Homo sapiens: one gene and its partner. The protein of the gene in region 1 purifies or fractionates together with the protein of each later gene. This does not show direct contact. Each region holds a gene or a part of one and is shown on either strand. Other genes may lie near its edges. The genes, in order: CHD1 and EPB41L1.

Evidence for each region.
Region 2: the proteins of CHD1 (region 1) and EPB41L1 purify together in Homo sapiens (co-immunoprecipitation; one large-scale study listed by IntAct). This does not show direct contact.

The regions. Positions count from the first base shown.
Region 1 is NC_000005.10:98,897,851-98,901,669, reverse strand, and holds part of CHD1 (chromodomain-helicase-DNA-binding protein 1), read left to right. Parts: intron 1-334; coding exon 335-484; intron 485-587; coding exon 588-859; intron 860-1,964; coding exon 1,965-2,190; intron 2,191-2,905; coding exon 2,906-3,006; intron 3,007-3,235; coding exon 3,236-3,414; intron 3,415-3,819. UniProt on the Homo sapiens protein: ATP-dependent chromatin-remodeling factor which functions as substrate recognition component of the transcription regulatory histone acetylation (HAT) complex SAGA. Regulates polymerase II transcription.
Region 2 is NC_000020.11:36,160,985-36,164,803, forward strand, and holds part of EPB41L1 (band 4.1-like protein 1), read left to right. Parts: intron 1-3,819. UniProt on the Homo sapiens protein: May function to confer stability and plasticity to neuronal membrane via multiple interactions, including the spectrin-actin-based cytoskeleton, integral membrane channels and membrane-associated guanylate kinases.

The DNA of each region.
Region 1 (3,819 bases):
GAGGATTAAAATGGCATGGATTAGTATCTCTTTTTTGAGAGGGCAAGTAGAATAATTTTATGAGATTTTCATCTATAATGAAAATTAAAATATCATTTATTTGCTGTTCACTGACGTATAACTAAGTGATTAGCAAAACTAGAGTTGTGAGAGAAGTCTATGAAGAATATTTTCCAGAGTGTTTTTGTTTTATAAATATTTCATTTTTAGCATGAGTAAAAGCAACAGTATTTTTGATAGCGAATATAGTTTGGTTGATTTGATCATCTTTGTATTAGGGATAAAACTTGCCATATAAGTACAAATAAAAATACTTTATAAATTTTGTCTGCAGTGAAGATTGGCAAATGTCTGGGTCAGGATCTCCATCTCAGTCTGGTTCAGATTCAGAATCTGAAGAAGAGAGAGAGAAAAGCAGTTGTGATGAAACAGAATCTGATTATGAGCCAAAAAACAAAGTCAAAAGCAGAAAACCTCAAAATAGGTATGGTCTCAGTTTGGTGCTGAAAATTGATTGTGGAAAGTATTTGTTCTTTTTGTATATAGTTTCTCAAATCTTGTTTTTTTTTCTCTTTGCACTTTCCTAGATCTAAGTCAAAAAATGGAAAGAAGATTCTTGGACAAAAAAAGAGACAGATTGATTCATCTGAGGAGGATGATGATGAAGAAGATTATGATAATGATAAAAGAAGTTCTCGTCGCCAAGCAACTGTTAATGTTAGCTATAAGGAGGATGAAGAAATGAAAACAGATTCTGATGACCTACTGGAAGTCTGTGGAGAGGATGTTCCTCAACCTGAGGAAGAGGAATTTGAAACCATAGAAAGATTTATGGATTGTCGGATTGGGAGAAAAGGAGGTAGTTTTTAAAAAACCATTTATTGTTTGGTTATTTAAATAATATTTACAGGAGTAGAGGGCTGGGCACAGTGGGTCGCCCCTGTAATCCCAGTACTTTGGGGGGCCGAGGCCGATGGATCAGGAGTTCTAGACCTGAGGTCAGGAGTTCTAGACCAGCCTGGCCAACGTGGCAAAACCCCATCTCTACTAAAAATAGAAAAGATTAGCTAGGTGAGGTGGTGCGCACCTGTAGTCCCAGCTACTTGGGAAGCCGAGGCAAGGGAATTGCTTGAACCCACGAGGCTGAGGTTGCAGTGAGCTGAGATTGCACGACTGCACTCCAGCCTGGGTGACAGAGCGAAACTCCATCTCAAAAAAAAAAAAAAAAGGTAAAGTATTTAAGATTTTTCTACAGTGTTGAAAGCTAAGAGGGTGGATTTTTTGTTGTTGTTGTTTTACTTATGTTTTATAAAAGCTACTTTGCTTAGCCTGAGTACCTTCTTAATAACCACCTGACCACATTTCTTTTTTCTTTTTTTTTTTTTTTTGTGACAGAATCTCGTTCTGTTGTCCAGGCTGGAGTGCAGTGGCACGGTCTCAGCTCACTGCAAGCTCCGCCTCCCAGGTTCACGCCATTCTCCTGCCTCAGCCTCCCGAGTAGCTGGGACTACAGGTGCCTGCCAGGACACCTGGCTGATTTTTTGTATTTTTAGCAGAGATGGGGTTTCACCGTGTTAGCCAGGATGGTCTTGATCTCCTGACCTCGTGATCCGCCCGCCTCGGCCTCCCAAATTGCTGGGATTACAGGCGTGAGCCACCGTGCTGGGCCTCCAGCTGACCACGTTTCATATATTGTGGATAATTATAGAATAATGCTGTGGGATCTCAGGTGGATCTCTGTCTTTTTATTTTTTCTAATTCGAAAAAGGAGGGGATTATATTAGATAATTCTGAAATTCTCAGTTTTATTTATGAGCAATAGAATTTCCCATAAGTTTCTATACCCCCAATACTTTATTTAAAAGAGTATATATTTTTGTACTCATATTATTGAAATTTTGAGTTGAAATATAATCCTACAACAGAATTAATTACATGGAAGGATCTTGTGCTTTTGTTTTCAGCTACTGGTGCTACTACAACCATCTATGCAGTTGAAGCAGATGGTGACCCAAATGCAGGCTTTGAAAAAAACAAAGAACCAGGAGAGATTCAGTATTTAATTAAATGGAAAGGATGGTCCCATATCCACAACACTTGGGAGACAGAAGAAACCCTCAAGCAGCAGAATGTTAGAGGAATGAAAAAATTGGATAATTATAAGAAAAAAGATCAGGAAACAAAAAGATGGTAAGTATGCTGTATATCATATACTTCTTTTAATAGTTCAAAGATTACTAAACCTTTATGTTAATAAAGAATACATAGTAACATTAAATGATAGCCTAAAATAGCTATAGACTTTATAATACAGTTGGCTGTCTTTGTCCACAGCTTCTCTATCCTTGGTTTCAACCAACCATGGATTGAAAGTATTCGGAGGGAAAAAAAACAACAATAACACAAATTAAAAACAATACCATGTAACAACTATTTGCACTGCATTTACGTTGTAAATGTAAAATTGGGTATTATAAGAACATCTAGAGATGATTTAAAGTATGGGGGAGGATGTGTGTGGGTTATATTTTAGGTACCATGTCATTTCATATAAGGGACTTGAGCATCCTCAGATTCTGGTATCTGTAGAGGATCCTCAACCAATCCCCTGCAGGTAGTGAGGGATGATTTTATTCCATCTCAAGGTAAAACTCCTAGAGGTATACCTATCTAAACCTATCCTTGGTAACAGTCACATAGAGTGTGTCTCATACATTATAAATTACAAATTTTTAGTTAAAAATTAATGATGCTTTATTCCTGTTTGAGTTTCTTTATTACTCAAACTTGGCCCACACAGTGGCAAAATGGGAGATTTTGTGCTACAAATAGTGTTGGGGATGGGGGAGTGAAAGGTTATTTATGGGAGATTTTTAAGTCTATTCCTGGATTAATAATTTTTCAGGTTGAAAAATGCCTCTCCAGAAGATGTGGAATATTATAATTGCCAGCAAGAACTTACAGATGATCTACATAAACAGTATCAAATAGTGGAACGTATAATTGGTTAGTGATAAATGATTCTAGTTAAACTTTCTTTTTATGCTTGAAATAATCTGAAAAAAGTCATAAGTTTGCCACTTACATATCAAACACAGTAGCTTGCTCTTACTAAAACAGTATTGTAAACTAGATAGCTAAATTTTACTTGTGTAGCCTTTACTAAGAATTATGTATCTGATGATTAAATGTAAAAAAAAATAAATAAATAAGTAAATGCCTGATTCTCTCACAGCTCATTCCAATCAAAAGTCAGCAGCTGGTTATCCTGATTATTACTGCAAATGGCAGGGCCTTCCATACTCAGAGTGCAGCTGGGAAGATGGAGCTCTCATTTCCAAAAAGTTTCAAGCATGCATTGATGAGTATTTTAGCAGGAACCAATCAAAAACCACTCCTTTTAAAGATTGCAAAGTGAGTATTGTCTAACATTTTAAATTATTAAAAATATATTTATACATTATAAATATTTACAAGCCTAAATACAAGAGTTGGATCCTGATTTCAGATAGACTAAGGGAGAATATTTCTTGGTTAATAGGTCTTACAGGAAGTGAACTTCTGCAATTGCTGTGTGTTTTTTAGTTTTAGTTTTATAATTTTTTATTTCAAACTTTCTCTTAAAAAAATTGTAAATGATGTTTTCGTCAATGTATCTTCTTAAGTGTTGTCTTTTATCTTGTTGAGCATCACTATGTCAGAAAGATGAGTTGGTTATGGTGATTGTCAGGAAGGGTTGGGAGAATAAACAGAAAAAAACCCTTGGAAACTAGAGATATGCTCAATTTTAAAGATAGTGGATATTTTCTTAGAAGGTAG
Region 2 (3,819 bases), on another chromosome or scaffold:
TTAGACAATTAGTGAAAATCAAGTGAGAGAAGGAGTCAGAAACCATGAGACCGTGAGAGTTGCCCTCAAAGGTCTGCTGCTTCTCCCTTCTCCTGTTCCCTCCTCTCCTCACTGGAGCCTGGGGGAACTGGTCTTGGAGGAGGCCATCTCTCTGTCACCCTCAAAAGGTGGTGATGTCCCAGGGAAAGACCCTTTCTTTCACCCACCCAGTATGGAGCTCTCCTAGGAAATTTTCAAATTCTCTTAGGATGCTCTAAGCTGCTGCTTGGGCTGTGCAGCTGCCCACACCCAGACTGTCCTTGGACAAGCTTTCTACCTTCTCTGTACCTCAGTTTGTCCATCTGTCTGGTGGTGATCAGAGCCATTGCTGCCACTGAGTGTCTTCTATATGTCAAATACTGTGCTAGAGCAAGCTTCATGTGCATTATCTGTTTTTCTATTTTTTCTTTTTATTTTATTCTTCTTATTTTTTTGTTTGTTTGTTTTTTGGGTTTTTTTGTTTTGTTTTTGAGATGGAGTCTTGCTGTGTTGCCCAGGCTGGAGTGCAGTGGCAGGATCTCAGCTCACTGCAACCTCCGCCTCCCCGGTTCAAGCAATTCTCCTGCCTTGGCCTCCCAAGTAGCTGGGATTACAGGCACGTGCCACCTGCCTGGCTAGTTCTTGTATTTTTAGTAGAGACAGGTTATCACTGTGTTGGCCAGGCTGGTCTCGAACTCCTGACCTCAGGTGATCTGCCTGCCTCAGCCTCCCAAAGTGCTGGGATTACAGGCCCAGTCGTTATTCTTGTTTTTTTAAAGACAGCCTGTCACTCTGTCACCCAGGCTGGAGTGCAGTGGCATAGTCACAGCTCACTGTGACCTCAAACTCCCAGGCTCTAGTGATCCTCCTGCCTCAGCCTCCTGAGTAGCTGGGACTACAGGTGCACCCCACCATGCCCGGCTAATTTGGGGGGGGCACAGGGTAAAGACAGTGTCTCGCTCTGTTGCCCAGACTGCTCTCAAACTCCTGGGCTCAAGCAATCCTCCCTCCTTGGCCTTCCAAAGTGCTGAGATTACAGGCGTGAGCCACCACACCCTGCCTATCTCATTTAATTCTCACTATACACCTTGGAGGTGCAGGGGATAGTCTTCTCAATAGAGGTTAAGTAACCTGCCCAAGGTCACCAAGCCTGTGGCATCAGGATTCCAGCTCTGGCTCATAAGCCCATGTCTGTAACTGCTGTTTCCTGCCCACTCTCAACAGTGGCTAATTGGTGAGGTCCAAGCAAAATGATTATAAAAAGATCCTTTAAGTTGTAAAGTGCCCTGCATGTGGGAGGGATTGATACTGCCGTTATTATTTCTACATCCAGAGCAACAGTAGCTTTGGTTATATGGCTTACAGCAAGTTGGAGGTCGTGGGATGTAGCAGCATTGAGTGGGGAGAGCACTGGACTGTGAGCCAGCAGACTTGAGTCCTAGTCCTGGCTCTCCTTGAAACTGACTAGCCATGTGGCCTTGGCCACTAAGCCGCCTGGGAAATAAGCTCACCTACTCCGTGTGGCCCTTGTGCAGCTCAAATAAGATAAAGCCCAAAAGACAGCCAGCATGTTGCCCAGCTCTCGGAGGATACCCTGCTAACGGGAGGTCTCTCTCTGCCTTCTGCATCGTCATCAGGATGGGCCAGGTGGGACGCATGTCTCCGTTTTAATGCTGTTACTCTGCAGTTCTGTGCTGTCACGTGGTCCCCAGCCCACCACTGCACATCAGCCTGAGGCTCCCTAGTGGCCCGTGAAGCTTTTGGGCAAGAAGCCAAGGCTGATGGGTGGTGGCCTTTTCACATTGTTTGGTCTAAAGTGGTGTCCGTGGGTACTGCAAACCTCTGACGAATTGCCGTCTCCCCACTGCCATGTACAAATCCAAGCACCAGACAGGATGACTGCAGACTCAGCTCCCTTTTTGATCCTTCTTGCCTGGCTGTGAAAGTGGCTTGAGGTCTCAGAGGCAGCTCTCTCAGCCTGTACCCTCCATCCTTTCATTCACGTCCATGTAGACATTATCACTCAGGGAAGTGAGTGTTCCATACTGGGGAAGTCCCCTTGGGAAGGAAGTCACATCATCTCCAGCAAGTGAGAGAAAGAATAAGCCCTAATAGGCACTCTTTCTGTTTTTTTTTTTTTTTCTTGTAATTCTTCTTTTTTCTTTTCTGACTCCGAAAGTAATACATGCTCATAGTAGAAAATTGAAAAATACGGAGAAAAAGGCCCCTATTTCCTTCTCCAAGGGAAGGCTATTGTTAACATTTTAGTCTTTGGACTTAATTGGAGAGTAATATTTCTGGAGCAAATATTTCTAATATTCTGGTATGTGTTTAGTGTTTTACAGGCATGATCTGATTCCATTTTCACAGTAAGCCTGTGAGGTATGTAAGTTTATCATCATGACTTTACAGATGAAGAAACTGAGGCACAAAGAGGTTAAGGGGCTTCCTGACGGTTCCCTTGCCTTCCTTGACTTCTTAGCTTATTCTGCCTCTTCTCAGGCTCCCCTTATCCTAAGTGAGCATCAGGTGGTGGATCAGTCAGATTCTGACAGGAAACAGAATTCCACTCAGATGCTTCACCTGAGGAGATGTTAATAAAGATGTGAGCAGGGTGAGGGGAACCCACATGGGATGGTGAGGCACCCACAAACTAACAGTGACAGAAGGCATTACTAGCTCTCGGCCTGAATGAGCAGGAGGGAGTGGTGTTACCTGAGTTCCGTGACTGGTAGAGGTGGGCAGGGAGCTGTCGCAGAGGGGCTCAGCCACCACCAGGACCACAGAGAGAGAAATTGGGGAAGATACACCCAGGATCTCTCTCCTTCCACCTTCTGAATTCCTGCCAGTGCCTTCTTCTTTATTATTTTTTTTTTAAGACAGAGTCTCTGTCGTCCAGGCTAGAGTGCAGTAGCATGATCTTGGCTCACTGCAACTTCCACCTCCCAGGTCTGCCTCAGCCTCCCTAGTAGCTGGGACTACAGGCGCCTGCCACCACACCCAGTTAATTTTTATATTTTTAGTAGAGACAGGGTTTCACCTTGTTGGCCAGGCTGGTCTCAAACTCCTGACCCCAAGTCATCCACCCACCTTGGCCTCCCAAAATGCTGGGATTGCAGGCGTGAGCCACTGTGCCCGGCCCCTGCCAGTGTCTTCTATTGGCCAAATGGAACCAGAAACCAGGAGGCAAGGGAGCTCAAGGGACAGTCCAATGGGCCAGCCTCCTGCTTCTTCAAGCAGGTCATGGATCTGGGGGTGCACATGGAGACTAACAACCCAAGCGACATGGTTGTAGGGAGATGGGAGAGACATGTCCTCTGACTTCCCAGAAAGAGTTGTCTTAGTAACTGACTATTAAAAACATCATTCAAAACAAGAGACTTTTTTTCTGCCTGGGAGTCTCTTGGTGTTTTGGTGTCTCCTCCCTCCCCTGCCCCCCATCTCCTCTCTCACCTGGTTCAGAATTTCCAAGAACACCTGGGCAACAGTCTTTGGTGTCATCGGTGTGCAGGGTTTAGAAGAGACAACCTTGCTTGCATGATACATGTGGCTGTGTGTGTTCTCATGTTGTTTCACTGCTGTGCCTATGCATACAAAGACATGCTTCTTGTGTACATGTCATAAGCATCTATAACATAGTCTCCTCTGTATCCAGCAGAATATTCACTTTTTATTTATTTATTTATCTAATTTTATTTTTTTGAGATGGAGTCTTGCTCTGTCTCCAGGCTGGAGTTCAGTGGCATGATCTCGGCTCATTTCAACCTCTGCTGCCGAGGTTCAAGCAATTCTCCTGTCTCA